Linked DNA regions of Homo sapiens: region 2 is linked to region 1. The links come from fine-mapping of genetic effects on gene expression. Tissue or cell type: lung. Region 1 holds a variant in brackets; the other region holds the start of a gene. All regions are shown on one strand. Distances are between the middles of the regions.

Region 1 (4,535 bases):
AATACCTTGAAAACATGATGGAGACACTGAGCTGATTTGGAGGCACATATGTTAGCTATTGATCAAGGGCATCTTTTGCTCTTAGTTGGGGCCCCTTAAGCCGCTTACTTTCATAGACTAACTTTGACTTCTTTCTTCTTCACATCAGGAGCCCACTTACATCCTAGCCACTGGATTATGTTTAATGGCATTCAAACTAACTTTTTCCAGTATCAGCTTAGATCATCCTTGAAAAGCTGACCCTGCTTTCAGGTCTCCAAAGGATGCTTTTCTTCTGACACTCCACTATTTACTGAACTGATCATTGCCTTCTCCCTCTTCACCTCCTGACTTCTCTTTTTAGGCTAGTCCCATGCAGCAACTTTTGGTTTCTTAAAATACGTAGCCAGTTGAGTATTTTTTTTCTTTTAGCAATCATGGTGTAGTTCCATGATCCTTAATGGAATTTAGCCATTTCTCACTTTTGAAGCATGGCATGGTCTCAAGCTCCTTATGTCTGTGCCCAAGGCACCATCCTACCTTCATTTGTCATCTCCAAATCTAGAGGGTATCATTTTCATCATTCTCACTTCTTATAACCTCAAAGCTTTCCAGTTAGCGCTTGGGCTCTCCCTAGAACCTCATTTCCATGCCCCCTGCATAAGGGTCCTAGAAACCTACCCAGCATCAAAACTTGGCAGTCCCTATGCCTGTCCTTGCCCTGCAAAACCATATTCAGGAATGAGGAGCTGTACCTTAGAGCATTTTACCATTTCACACATGGCACCTTTCTTGAGCTCACTTTGACCCTCATCATAACGAGCCTGGAATGGAAGGCAGTGGGTTTGGGGAAGCTTCACATAGAGGAGTGCTAGCTTTTTCTACATTCAGACAGAACAGGATGAAACTGAAGTGGCTATGCAGATATTTTAGTCTCACTAGAATTCTTGTTCCATTACACAACAACTTTAGGCAGTCAAAATTTCAAATTTGAGAAGGAGGCAAGAGTCTTGTCGTGCAAGGCACTGGTCCATTTTCTGCAGCAGGTTTGGTTCAATTAATTTCTGACATATTCTTTCCTTTGTAAAGGTACAAAGATAACACAGAGAGAGACCCACAGCTTTTTCAAAGGTACAAAAATTTGGGCAATTTGAGGGAAAATACAAGGAAGAGAGGGGAGATTTACTCTACACCTCCACACCCCCAAATAGAGAAAGCCAGAGATGTGTATTATCTGTGTGTGTGTGTGTGTGTAGGTGTGCACATGCATGCATGAACATGCACACATGTGTGTGACTTGTGACTCCAAAGTAATGTAGCAGATTTTCAGACGTGGTTTTTGGAACCTTTCTTATTACATTAATATCTTGGACTGTACATACGTGAATTCCACGCCTGTAAGTGTACCTGCACCCATACACAAAAGCTCACAATATAAGATCCACAGTGCTAACATTACAGATTCTGCAGTTGATGAAAAGCGAGCATTGAGATTTGTGATGTATATGTTTACATCAAGGTTTTGAATTCAGCGACCTGCTGTTTTCACAGTCGCTGCCATTCTCTGCACAGCCTGTTTGGAAATGTTACAGTCCCTGAGAGACCGGCTCCCTCATGAATAGGCAATTAGATGTCTCCTCCCTCCAGGCTGCGAGAGATGCTCCCTCCCTCCTGGAATCTTCTCTACTTTTAGAAAACGTGTGCTTAACTTGTAAATGTAGTTTTCAGTGCTGGTAAGAATATTTTTGTTTTGAATAACAATCGCGTTCTTTTCCACAGCGCGAGGCTCTCTGCTGAGTAGCAAGGAGCCCCTCCCAGCCGGAAGGCTTTTGCGGTGCTAGCAGCGCCTGTCTCAGAGCCCTTCTTTATCAACACTGGGCTGCAGGGCCGGTTTCTGAAGTAC[G/A]TAGTAAACATAATTGTTCTCACATTAAAAAGAAGAGGAAAACAAACAAGGCGCAGATATGTTCCGCAGTTTTCGCAGCACTGCATGGAGCTGTGACACGCAGGCTACCTAGGGGGCCCCCTCCTCCCCGATCTCCCTCTCACTAGGTGGGGAATCCTGGACGGCTGCTGGACTCCTCTGCGTTTCAGTTTCTCCCTCTGAGCCGTGAACCTCCTATGACTGTTGGGTGTATTAAATGAGATAATGTATAAAAATGTTTGGAATAACTACCTCGTGCATATCAGCTCTCCATACTGTTGCTGCCGCAGCTCTTGTAGAAGGTAGGTTTACCGGGAAATGGGCCCTCAACATACAAATTCGAAAATAAATTTAAGCATACATATTCCTCAGAAAATGCAGTCCTTTTCTCCAGATCTTGGCTTGACCTCCTTTTTCTAGCCAGTGCTAGTATTTTTAAAAAATCAGAATTGAGTCAATTTTAAGAAAATCCAATTTAAGTGTCAGAATCTTAGCCTTTCCTAAAACTCTTTACCAGCTCCCTATCATCTATAGGAAAAATAGAGACTCCTTAGTAAGGTATGAAGGGCTATTTGCAGTGTGGCTACCAACTACTTCTTTATCTTCTTCCCATGAGACACTGCCATATGTATTTTATGTGGCAGCAGGAATTAACTGGCCACAGTCCTGCTACGACACTGTATTATTTCATGCCCCTGGGCCTTTGCAGATGCAAATGCATGAAATTCTGTCTCCCCCTCTTTACTTTCTGGGACAACTCTGGCTCCATCTACGTGTGTTTTCTCTAACACTCATGATCCCCTTGATTAAAGTATTGCCTCCATCCTCCATGCTTTGCCCATATGTTTAGTCTTGTACATATTACCTGGTATTGCAATGCATTTGTTTATTAGTTTGTCTTTCCCATTTGACTCTGAGTTCTTTGAGGTGATGGACTAGGTCTTATTGATTTCTGTATTCCAGCACTAAACAAACAGCACAGACTCAGGGACACAAAAAATTGTTTCATGGTTTAATTGAAATAGGGAGTAAATGTTAATATTATTAAGGCAGGCACTGCAGAGATTTTTGTTGCTTTTCTTTTCCTTGCAATAATGAGGTCAGCTCTTGTATTAAAAATATTTTGGAGAACAATGCCCATTTATGTAAATGAAGAGTAGTTGAAACAACAGCAAGAAGTCTGGTGTTTCTAGGATTAATTTCGTTTGATTCAACAAGTGTTGTTCTAAGTGCTGGGGGTAATAATGAAGATGGAATAAGATACATTCTGTTTCCTCAAGGAGCTTTCAATCTGGAAGGGGATAAGGCAAACAGAGTAGAAAAAGGGCAAAATTCGTGCCATTAGAGGTGAACAAAAAAGAGTTCTGGAGGTTTGAAGGGAGAATCAGCCGAATGTAACTGGGGATTAGGAAGAGGTGTTGTGTGGAAGTGGCAATGTTTGCGATTGACCTTGATGGGCTAGGCAGAGATGGGCAAGAAGGATATTCCAGGCAGGAGGGACAGTATGTGTAAAGATCTAGGGGTGACTAAGAGGATATCCACTTGGAAACCATCAACCATCCGCCAGGCTCCATCTTATGCCTAGCATGGGCAAGTAGTTGGAGAAGAGGCTGAAAAACAAGTTTGTGGCTATTTTGCAAAAGGTACTTAGTCCCAGAATGAGGAAATTTGACTTAAGTTAGCAGGCATTGGGGAGCAATCAATACTTTTGAGCAGAAGAGTGATATAAATAGAAGAATGCTAAAGAAATTTTGGATTGCTAGCCTATAGGGATTGCCCGGGAAAAGGAGAACTTCACAGTAGGGATAGGAGAGAGGAGATTGCAAGATTGTAGATGGGAGGTACTAGCAGTGGAAGATAGTATCTGAGAGATCTTGAATTTTCTGAGGCTCACTTCATCTTCTACCCTTTGCAAAACAGAGAGGACATGTGCTCATTTTGATGTGAGGATGAGTAAGAATTAAGAGTCTCATGTGATGCTTGGGTTTAAAGCATGGATAAGGGAAGTCATGGAACCATTCAGAGAATTCAAGAAATCAAGCAGAGGAAGTCAGAGTGTTAGGAATGTTGTAAATTTGGTGTGGGTGATGTCCAGTTTAAGGATCTTCAAGTAAATTGGAAACTTAGGAGACAGGTCAGAGTTAGAGCTTCATACTGACAATAACTGACATCAGGGAATAGATGTTATACTGAGAAAAGGAAGACAGACAGAGGAGAAACCAAGTATAAAACCTTAGATAATACCTACGCTTATTAAAGAGAAAAAACAAACCGATAAGGGAGAACAATGATAGTAATAGAACCAGGATAGCTAGTGCAATCTCATGTAATTCAAGTGTGAGTTTTGAGGAGGAAATCATTCCTGGAGGGGAATTTCAGTTCATTGACTACCTGACAGGTAGTATAAAAACTTGTTTGAATTTCCATAGCTTTTTGGAGTTCATATTCCTTCATGATTATTTGTTTGTATGTCTTTCTCTCCTTCCGGACTGGGAGCTCCTCCAAAGTGGAAAACATGTCTTAGTTGTGTTTTTCCAGCCTTTAGCAGGGTACCTGGAATGTAGCTAGGGCTTAATGATCATTTGTGGAATGAGTAAACAAACAAAGTGATAGAGAAATGAAGACAAGGAAAGGC
Region 2 (4,535 bases), 200 kb after region 1:
GCAAGCACAGTAATTTTATTTGTGAAAGGCCAGAATTGGGTATTTCCACCTTGTGGCATCATTGTACCCCCATGGACACTGAGAAACACAATGAGACCTCTCCCCATCAGACACTTGATACATACCTCAGCCAAGAGCGCTCCTCGCCTGGAGTGGGAGACATCTTTGAAACAAAAAGAGTCGGTTTACAGTAAGTTCTCCTGATAAGCTAAAATGGATTAGTTTTTTAAAACCATGTCCCACATCAAGTCTCTTGCCCCACTATGGTAACTGCCATTGTGCCTACAAATAAGTGCCTGTAGTATGCAATGTTTAAAATTCTGGAGGTGCATGTCTTCTGCTCATGTATGGATATAATCTGAAAGTAATTTGTCTCACTTAAGAAACTATAAATGGCCTTTTATTTTTATAAAATTGCTCTTAACTGAGTTAGAGAGCGGGGGAGGGGGAGGAGTACCAGGGAAAAAAAGGACAGAGAAAAATCAATTAGTGTATCTTCCCTTGCAAACTGTCAGTAGGGTAGGATTAGAAAAGCAACACTTTAAATCACATAAAGTCCTATGGGAACCTTAAAGGTTGGTTGCTCTGAGCTTCTCAATATTCTGCAAAATAGATTGATGTCAGTGGTGACCCCACTAATACTCAGTGTCCGCTAAGCTTCCTCTAAGAAATTGCATTTCCCCCATTGTTCAAAAGATATTAACTTGGTAATAAAAATGAGGAGAAGTTATGGGACCCACAGAGATATCTTTCAACACCTTTAAAACCAGTAAATCTGTTCTAATCTCTTATTGGATTACATGCCCGAGGAGGCTTACTATATCAGGAAATCAACAACAAAGGCAAGAATAGCACTTATTTGGAGGAAAATAAAAAAAGATGGGAGGCAAAATGATTAATACGTTACTAAACATTTCTTTTGTTTTTTTATCTGTTCAATTTTAAATATCTGAGAGACAATCTATTAAAATCAGAAACATGCATGTTGCTTTTAAACTTCCAAATGACCAAATGACAGTTTCTCATGTCTATTACAGCAAACATATTTTTATTTGAGAGGTGATCCGTTTATGATTTGTAAGCCTTAACAAGAAATGTCTTTTAAAAATGCAACATTAACTTTAGTCATCTAACAGCTAGTTCTGAGTTAAACGGTTCCATCAACATTCAATTTTAGGTATTAGTTACATGGACATTTGTTTTTCCTCAAAGAGAAGTGGTTCCTGTAGCTTTTTATCAAAAGTTTATTATTTGACATACATCTCTTTATATGACATTTACTATTTTACATTAGTCAGTTTCTAGGCTTGCAGCAGAGATCGATGTATTTCCCTGGGAAGACTTAGCTGCTAACATGGTTTATAGGCATTCAGCACCAACTCAAGCGCCCGTTTTTCAAACATGCACAATTACCCATTTTCTACAAACAGACATCAGTGCATACAGAGCCAGGTGCACACACATTCAATAAATAGTAAATGGTAGAAATCTCCAGAAGTAGAACAGATCACAGTTAACAGGCTGGGGCCATACAGCTAAGTAAACACCGACGCACGATTCGCTCACACGGAATAAGAACTCCACGAAGGACACTTGGGGACCACACTGGTCGTACCCGAGGGGGCGGGAGGCGGAAAAAGTATTTCCAAACGCAACTCTGCCAGGTCTTACCCTTCGCATCCCCTGGTCCTCGGGACAGAAGCTCCCTTGGCACCTCTCGCCCAGCTCAGGGGCTGGTTGTCCGCTAGAACGAAATATCCCCCACTGACTACGGAGAGCTCTGCAGGGAGCCGAGGCCCCCGCCCGGGCCAAGGGAAGGCGCTGGCGCCGCGGGAGACAAGAAGAGGCGGAGGCGGAAAAGAAGTGGAGAAGGAAGGGGTGGCAGAGGGAGTAGCGTGCGGGAGGCGGCGCCGGCGCCGGGCTGCTGGCGAGGCGGGGTGGGGTGGAGTGGGGTGTGCCTCCGGCGGGCGGTCAGCAAGTCAGTCCGTCCGAGCGCCGGCGTCCCGGTCTCCAGCGCCCGCCCGCGACAGCGACCGGGACTGGCGCCCCGCTGCTCCGACCGCCGGCGAGCCTCGCCCCTTCCCAGGCTCTTCACTGGGTCCTCCCGCGAGCCCCGCCTGGCCCGGCGTGGGGCCGCCCGTCTCCGCCAGCCCGGGCGCCCGTCGCCTCGTCCCGCTCGCGCAGTCCCTGCCGCTCCCTCCGCTCGCGCTGTCTCTGGCTCCCTCTCGCTCCAGTCCCATTTATGAAGCGCGGTCCCATCACGTGTTAATGAGCCTTTGTCCTGCCCTGGCAGCGGCGGCGGCACAGACCCCGCCGAGGGAACTGCGCGGGGAGGGACCTGAGCGCAGCGCCCGTAGCCCCAAACTTTGCTTGGGGCGGGGGACCCGCCGCGGCGCCAGCCCTGGGGCCAGAGGGGACAAGCCTCTTCGGCCCGCGTCACCTACTTCTCCTCTTCCTCCTCCTCCTCCGCCGCCGCGCTCCCGGAGGCCCCCGCTGCCATGACCTCGCTGTGCTCCCGGATACCCTCACACCCTGACCAGGCCAAGAAGGGGCTGGTGCATGCGCCGCCCACGACCTCGGGGCCATTAATCACACGCTCCCGGGCAGCGCGCATCGCCAACACCTTCCGCGGGGGTCACGTCTGGGGCAGCGGGCTGAGCCGGAAGGGGAAGGGGAGCGGGAGCCCAGAGGCCGAGGCGCGCCGGGCCCGGGGGTGCGGTCTCGCGCCCCCTCCCTCCGCGCAAGGCCGCTCCCGTGGCAGGCGGCAGCGAGCTGGGCCCGGGGCCGGGCTGAGCTTTGGGACCGCGCTGCGCAGCCCCCGAGCCGTTCGCTACCTGGCTGCGGTCGCGCGGCCACCTGTCCTCCGCCCTCGGGGCGCCGCCCAGCTTCGCGCCAGGCGCCTTCTCCAGCGCCCGCCGCCCTTTCCCGGCGAGACCACTCGGGCGCGCCCCGCCCGCCGGTCCCCGATGCAAACAGTTGGGCTCCGTAGGCGGCTGGCTCCGCGCCTCCCGGCCCGGCGCGCCCCCTCCCCGGCCACCCGGGGCCCCGCTCCTCGCACCTTTTCGCTGGAGGAGGACGCCCCACTCCAGGGCCGGACTGGGGGCTCTGGGACTCGGGGGCGGCAGCGGCGGGCGCCTGGGGAGCCGCGGTGTGCTCAGCAGCCGCGGCAGGAATTAGGGGACATGCTCGTTAATTGTTTCCACTATCAGCCGCCGTCTGCCTCCTGTGTGCACGGATCAAACCTTAATTGGTCTTTACATTTATCATGGTGAATTGCGAACCTCCAAACAAGCCTGGGCCGCCGCTTCTGCCGAGGAGGCGCTCCCCTCCCCTCCGCCCCCGGGGCCCTGCAGGGTGTGCGGCGGCGGTCGTGGTTATTTAGACATCTTTATCTCTCGTGAGTTGGATCGGGAGAGGATCGCACGGTTTCCACCTGACGGAGCCACGTCACGTCGGCCACAAGGGCCCCGTGCTGGGCGCTGGGTTCGGTTCCCGGCCGTCCTCTTGTGGCCGCCTTGGCGTTCATTTTATGACACCTTGCCGGTGTTCCCAGACATCATCCCGCACCGCTCCGTTTTACCGACCTCCAGGTCTTCCCGCCCCTGATCAGACCCCAACAGCAACCGTACTATATCTGGACCCTATATTTGAACTACGTGGTGAGAATCTGTGAAAGCGAGCCTCTCAGGGAAAGAAGGAAGATTGTTGAGTTCAAGGTCCTGGAGGAGGGAAGGCTGTAAAACCGTTTTGGAAACGTCAGGCCAAATCGTACAAAGGCTTCCCGCAGAGCACTAGTGCAGTTTTTGAAAATCCCCCTAGACTGCTTTAGACTAGAAGTATTTCCGTCAAGCAAATGACCATTTGACTCCATTGAGAGAGAGAGTCCACCGCTGAAATGATTAAGTCCTACTAGGTGGGTGGTTAGAAAAGGTTATCAATAAAGTTCTGATGGACCCATCGATAGATGGAAGAATGACTGGGAGATAGATAGTAGATGTGGGATTAGTGCTGAGCCTTAACCCTGCTGCTTGGGGAAGGCTCTACTCACAGGCATTTTTAGCCCACCTCCATGGCAGAGACAGCTCCAGCGCAAGATTCAAAGGGAGGAGGCTTCAACATCTGTTGCTTTTTTCTTTTAGGGGTCGTGGTTGTTAGATTTTCCCTTCACCTCACACCCCTGGCAGTAGGAAATATTTGCAAAAATTTTCTCTCCTTATGACCTCGCAGACTCTGATTTCCCAAGAGGCCAGATGACAATAACTTCAAAGTCTCTCCTCCACCTGGCAGCTCAGTTTCAAATGACTGCTAGTAATTAAAAGAAAGGATCAAGGCAGCGCTTCCTCTGACTGTGATAAGGACATCTTCAGTCACAAGAAACCTGGGGGAGCTGGACTCCTAGAATGCTTTCAGGCCACAGGATTTCACTTGGGTGCTACCACCCTCCCCTGTAGCTGGAGGGCGTGAGCTGTTGGAGTGGCAGAGCTGTTCAACATCACTCAGCTAAACAACACTGACACACCCTGGTGGTGCTCCTT

What was found. PIP is the estimated chance that this variant, and not a neighbour inherited with it, causes the effect.
Region 2: it holds the start of CNR1, and the variant in region 1 is fine-mapped to the expression of CNR1 in lung (TOPMed, PIP 0.93).

The regions. Positions count from the first base shown.
Region 1 is chr6:87,966,934-87,971,468 of GRCh38, forward strand. No RefSeq gene overlaps it. Among named protein-coding and RNA genes, the nearest start is that of SPACA1, 79 kb to the right of the region's middle. The variant G/A (reference allele first, on the strand shown) is at 1,883.
Region 2 is chr6:88,164,132-88,168,666 of GRCh38, forward strand. It overlaps CNR1 (cannabinoid receptor 1), which reads right to left and starts at 2,216. Exons shown (of 2, transcript NM_016083.6): 1 at 1,672-2,216. RefSeq lists silencers at 1,893-2,572, 2,633-3,072, 3,143-3,342.